2 separate regions of the Homo sapiens genome follow, and region 2 is reported to be linked to region 1. Evidence: microRNA targets listed by miRTarBase, many of them from high-throughput screens and not tested one by one. Region 1 holds a microRNA gene; the other region holds the end of a gene's coding sequence.
Evidence for each region. The annotated mature microRNA hsa-miR-9-5p reads UCUUUGGUUAUCUAGCUGUAUGA and lies in region 1 at 2,135-2,157, shown strand. An mRNA with a match to its seed (bases 2 to 7 or 8) in the 3' UTR can be bound and repressed. Matches are read on the target gene's strand: a 7mer-m8 pairs with bases 2 to 8, a 7mer-A1 pairs with bases 2 to 7 and ends in A, and an 8mer does both.

Region 2: the mRNA of CARD19 is a reported target of hsa-miR-9-5p. Seed matches in the 3' UTR shown: 8mer at 662-669.

Annotation. Positions count from the first base shown.
Region 1 is chr5:88,665,933-88,669,058 of GRCh38, reverse strand. It overlaps MIR9-2 (microRNA 9-2), which reads left to right and starts at 2,120; the gene lies at 2,120-2,206. The region is part of intron 2 of MIR9-2HG (MIR9-2 host gene); the gene reads left to right.
Region 2 is chr9:93,112,481-93,115,606 of GRCh38, forward strand. CARD19 (caspase recruitment domain family member 19) reads left to right here. Exons shown (of 6, transcript NM_032310.5): 6 at 512-803. The coding sequence ends at 627. Among named protein-coding and RNA genes, the nearest start is that of CARD19, 18 kb to the left of the region's middle. RefSeq lists enhancers at 921-1,869, 1,870-2,817.

The DNA.
Region 1 (3,126 bases):
TTTTTTATAGGGTTTACATATATGTGCTCTGTATATAATTCAGTAAGCATGTTCACATTCATGTCATAAATGAATAAGTCACTGAATTAATGAAAGAGTGTATGTTAATTCCAAAAGTGTTTTAGTTGTTGGGGAAAATAATCTATAGAATTGAGAGTATTGTGATAAAGTAGTCATGTGTGCAATGAATATTAAGATTACTCTAATAGCATATATTTTAAAGAATAGCAATATGACCAAACATAACTTGAAATTTTGAAAAGCAGTTCATAAGGTTCACCCTTGGTAAATATGAATTTAATGTAGACTATCTTAGATGTTCTGTTGAGGGACATTTGAATATTACAACTGCATGTATTATAGATGAGTTAGACATAGATTACTCATTACTAAGGAGAGAGAAGAAGAAAAGGACTCTTTGAAGTGATCATATTCACACTTTGAAAAGTTCTAAGAAAAGGAATGAGGCTAATTAATTAATAAAACAACATTCCCCTCTAGATAGAAGAAAGGTGGGGGTTGGAGAAGGGGAAGGTAGGGCAGAGTTATGCTCTTAACATCCAGGTGTTTTATATGTGTTCTTCACGAGGTAACAACGTTTTTTTTCATAGTTTCAGAAGCAAGACTATTACATTATCCTTTTGTATGAAAATTGATGTTTAAAACAATAGACAAAGGCTCAGGATTTTCATTACAGCAGAGTTGTGTACAGCATTAGAAACTATTGCTGCAAGGTTTACCTGTGCTGCATTCTAACGCACACACCCTACATATGTAGTCATTTTTTAAAAACCACGATGAAGTCCGCTTGCTTAGAGCATTCAGTTCGAACTTACAGAACAAAATATGCTGCCCTATCGCCATGGTACATAGATACAAAACATGACTGAGCTGTGAAGCCATTAAAAACACACCACCAGAGCAAATTGTCAATGTAATCACACATCGACTCACTGCGTAATACAGATCTGATTCCCAGCCCCAGAAAACGAGGCCCTGCTTTAAGCAATAGCAAAGTGCCTTCCATCTGTCTGCCTATGCAATCTGCCAGAAGAAAAATGCAGGCAAAGACGTTCCCCAGATCTGAAATGCTTTTATCTGTCCTTAGAGAGAGATTTCTTCCAGTCTTTGGATACTAGAACGATCTACACTAGCACGGAGGAGGTAAAAGGCCGCGGGTTGCTTTTCCAGGAGCAGTCGGTAGTGCTAGCGGAAGAGATGTTGATTGAGAAAATAGGGATTGTTGCAATGCTGCCGCTACTGCTGCTGTCGCTGCCGCTGCTCGGGCAGCAGGCGTGGGGCAGTTGGCTGATCACTGATGCATATCAATAACCATGTACTTGAGATTTCTCATGACATCATCATTACCTTGGTCTCCCGCGGTCTCGAACCTTTGACCTTGCCGGGCTGGTCCACAATTTGGCAGTGAAAGCCCCTCCAATGATGGCCCTTTTCTCCTTCTTTCAGACCGGGGGCAGCAGCAGGCCAGCAAGACGGCATCTTCTCCTTCCCAGCCTAGAAGCCCTGTGAAATCGAGGATCTTCCCCCTAAAACACATACACACAAGATATGTGCAATCAAGCTGCCACCGCTTGGTAAAAAGCCATGGTGCCTAACCAAAAAGGATCAGGAACAGATCCTTGAATCAGCTGTCACTTCTATAGAATGGGATTTTTTTTTCCTTCCTCCTTAACCTGCGCTGGAAATTGCCGTTGGCTTTATACATCTCTATAGAGAGAGGCTAAAGAGTCTTGCGTGAGAAAGAAGCAATTTACAATGCAAATAGAGGCCTGTGAAGGGACGGATGCTGCTGCTCACTCGTAACAGCTTGCTGCACCTTAATAGCTGGTTTTATTTTCTGATATTAATAGATGAATTGTTGGCTAACGCTGCCGGAGATTACTTGCTGAAAGGAAAAAGAAAAGTTCGGAATAAACTCTGAAGGCAACAGATCTCGTTTGGATGTTTTAGCCGCGCACACACACAAACAGAAACCAGGTCATATTTACATAAAAGGAGGAATCTTAAGCGCGGCAAGTATCCTGGACGACCACTCTTCGGTACTGCCAGAAAGGATCAGGACCTGGAGTCTGGCAAGAGGAAGACAGAGGCCTGTGTGGGAAGCGAGTTGTTATCTTTGGTTATCTAGCTGTATGAGTGTATTGGTCTTCATAAAGCTAGATAACCGAAAGTAAAAACTCCTTCAAGATCGCCGGGGAGCGTGTGAGAATGAAAGACTACAGCCGAGAGACAGTAAAAACCAGAAAGGTCAGGAATACTTATTGAATCTAACTTTGTTTTTGTTTTGTTTTTTTCCTTATGATTAAAGGTGGGATGAGAGAAAATTAAATGACACACACATGCTAAAATATCAAGGTTCCAGATATGTCTTGAGAGGGGTTGTTGCAGCTGCAAAGGAGAAGTGTATAGTGATAATGAGTAAAGATGCATGTGCAGTTTGTTCTATTTTAAGGCAAAAGTTATATCAGGGATTTTTTTCTTAGAAAGGTGTTGCAGAGATGTCTGGTACCTAGTTTAAAAATGATTCCATAATATGTAGACTTGGGCAGTTCCTTTGGGAGGCACCTCCCTCTCAAAATTTGAAGATTGTGCTTGGAAATTACTTTACATGTATTTGGGCTGTATGTCAATTTGTACGAAATTAGACTTTCAGAAAAGTTTATACTGGAAGGTTAATAATTTGTATCTACTGAGGACTTAGAGCTAGCAGGCAAAATGAAAAAAAAAAAAAAAAAAGCAAGGGCTGATTTTTATTCTTCTATTCAAAATACAAGGACAGATGCTTCTCTGTTCCAAGAGGGTTTCCTTGAGGAAGCTACTGAAGCAGAAAGACATGATGGAGACGAGATCGCCTCCCCTCTTGTCAAAGTGTTAAAAAAATGTTCTGTCTTACTCTGCGCCTAGCATTGGAAATGAAAGTGACATTTACGCCACAACCCACGTGTGCGCCTCCTCTCTTTTTGTTTAAGGATGATCAGGTCTATCCAGGAAACAGCTCTGGCATCCCAAACTGAAATAATTAGGACGTATATAGACCTGACAAAAATGGAAAGGGGGTGGGGAATCTGAGGGTCTGTCTTGCCTAATTGATTCCGCTAAACGGAA
Region 2 (3,126 bases), not on the chromosome of region 1:
CCCCTGCCACCCTTGGGAACCAGAGAATGATGACCTCTAGCGGGAGGAGGGGTGCAGCCAGGACTCTGGGTGTTACAAAGCCCTGCCACATCTGTGACCTTGAACCATGTGGGGCCCTTGAGCAGGTCACGTGCCCCAGGGCCTTGGGTCTCTCCAGCAGCCACAGGCCTGATGCACAGGAACCTTCCAGGGCCCCTCTACTGGCACCCAGCCTGGCCTGCCCCGTCTCCCTTTTCTGTGATGCCTGAGTTTGTCGTGCTGGGAGGCTTACTGGGTGAGGGGACACAGGCACACATGGCAGGACTCAAAGGCCCGTGGGTCACTCGGGTGGGAGCTGGGGGCTCTGGAATCTGCCCTAATTCTTGTCTTTTCAACTCAAGCCGAGACCATGACCGGGAGGGAGCACCCTGTCCCAGTGCCTGTTCCCACCCACCCCCGCAGGAGGGATGGAAACACAGAATTCACCTCTGGGACTGGTTCTTGAGCTTTTGCCTCCCCTTTTGTCTTCTAGACCCCAAGGGCCTGCCAGGGACCCGGCGCGTCCTCGGTTTCTCGCCTGTCATCATCGACAGACATGTCAGCCGCTACCTGCTGGCCTTCCTGGCAGATGACCTAGGGGGGCTCTGACAGACCCTGGACCCAGGGCCTCACCTGCCACTCAACCAAAGAGTCCTCGAGCCGGCCCGCCAAGGGGACTGCTGCTTCTTTTTCTAAATGCATATTTTTCATTATTTATAATTTGTGTAAAAAACACACCTTCACCTTACAAGGTGCTGACCATATTAAATGTTCAGGTTCTCTCAGCCTGCCTCGTTCCTCAGTCTCAGGGGTGTTTCAGAGATGACTGCAGCTATGGCTGCTCCAGCTGGGGCTGGCCCTGGTATTCCCAGCATCCCCACATCCAGCTGCTGGCACAGACCCCCCAGACAGGACGCCCTCCACATGGACTCACCTGCCTCGGATAAGCCGCCAGGCACTGCCTCCCCACCTCAGATGTTCCCCACACTGCCCCCTCCTCACACCTCATGTGCCACACACACACACACACACACACACACACACACACACACACACACCCACTCCCCCCACCCCAGCTGCTGAGCCTGGACCGGACACCTGATTCCCTCCCCTTGTCAGCTCCTCCCCCAAGCCTTTTTGTGGGGAAACGAGAATATTTGTCAACCCACAGAATCATCATGAGTTTGCATTTTCCAGGGGGTTTCTGGAGGCACCCAGGCTTTGCCCCAGAAGGTGCTGGGAACCCCTAATGCTGGGGCGATGCCACTGGCAGGGCGAGGCTATGGGCGCAGCTCCTGGAGGGACCCTGCTCAGTCGCAGGGTCCCAGCGCACATGACAGTGGGAACCAGGCTGCCGGTGGAGTATGGAGCTCCAGGACATGACATCCCATTACCATGCAGCCCTGCTGCTTGGGTCATCACAGTGCCTGCCCCTTCAGGGAACTGAGGGCCAGGGGCAAGGAAAGCCAGTGCCTCAGAGCCCTCCCACCTGCCAGGCTGCCATGCGCCCACTGAGTGGGGTGGCCGGGGGACAGCCCTAGCTGCCCTCTCCCTCCTCCACCCTGAGCCATGGGGCCAGGGCCTGTGCTCCAGTCTCAGCCCCTTTGCCCACCTGTGAAATGGGATCCCTCCCTCGGGACTCCTCCTTGAGCCTGCGCTCTGTCACAGCACCCCCTCCCCCTCAGAAATCCTTTTAGGAATTTACCACCTTGCTACAGATGCCTTTAATGCCTGGGTAAAGGAGACACACTTAGTGAAGGTGACAGGTGTCTGGGTGAAGGGTGTAGACAGGTGTGACTTGCCCCTGGAGGGTGAAGGAGGGGTCTCCAGGGACAGTAACATTCTATGACTGCGTCAGCTGAAGGTAGGAAACCTCCGAGGCAGGCAGGGCACAGGCCAGTGTGTGGCCTGGGCAAGTCCTAGGTGGCCCCACCTGAGGCCGTGGAGGACACACGCACCTCCTCAGGGCTGCCTGACATGACCTGAGGCCCTGACTCCCCAGGCCGCTTGGGCAGGGTGTCATTCCTCAGTGAGGGGCTGCCTGGCCCGAGGACTGCTGACTCCCCTGTCCATCTGTGTGCACCCACCGCCCTCCCCCGAGGCCCATGTCAGCCAGGTCCTGAGCCCCACTGTCCTTGGACTGCCCTCCCAGCGCCCAGCTACCCCCAGCTCCATCCCTGACCAACTGGACTCAAGCCTGGGGCTGAGTCTGTGACATCCTCGACCACCAGCCAGGCCTACTCTTGCATCTGCCGCCTCCCGCCTGGTGGTTGCCCCACCCTTTGAGGCTGGAACCTGGAGGAGGGAGAATGATAAGCGCCCATGTCTGTGCCTCAGCCGCCCATCAGGCCCAGCTCTGCTAACCACCGGGCCAACCAGTTCCTGTGACCAGCAGTGAACTAGGTCCCCAGGGGAGGGGAAGGCACCCTTGGGCACGTGAGGCCCTCCTGGCTGCCCTGAGTCCCCGCTTCCACACTACACCCACAGATGGCCGTGTCCTGCGCCTCCACACCTGTGCTGCAGGTGTTCAGGCAAAAACCGTGCTGCTCCCTCGGCTTGGGACTCCTTACCAGCCCCTCTCATCAACTCATCCTTCAGGAATGCCACTTCCTCCAGGAAGCCCTCATGATACCCCAGTAAGAAGAGCAGTTTCCTCCAAGCTACCACACCTGAACATGGGATGCTGTTCTGACATCCAGAACTGTGCAGGAGCTGGTAGGAGATGCTGGGGTCGAGGGAACTCCCATTACCAAAGCTTTGGTGTGAGGGAGGGGTTGTGGGAGAGCTGGAGGTGAAATGCAGAGGGTTGTGAGGGAGAGTGAGTGAAGGAAAGAGGGGTAGTGAGGAAGGGGGTGTGGATGAGGGAGGGAGATGAAGGAAGGGGAATGAGGGGGTGTGTGAGGTAGGTGAGGAAGGAGATGAGGGAGGGGGTGAGGTAGGGGTGAGGGAGGGGGGTGAATGAGGGGTGAGGGAGGGGTGAGGGAGGGGTGAGGGAGAGGTGAGGGAGGGGTGAGGGGGGTGAAGGAGGTAGGTGAAAGGGTGTGAGGGAGAGGTGAGGGAAGGAGTTGGGGGGAGGGAGGGGTGAGAGAGGGAGTGAGGGAGAAGGTG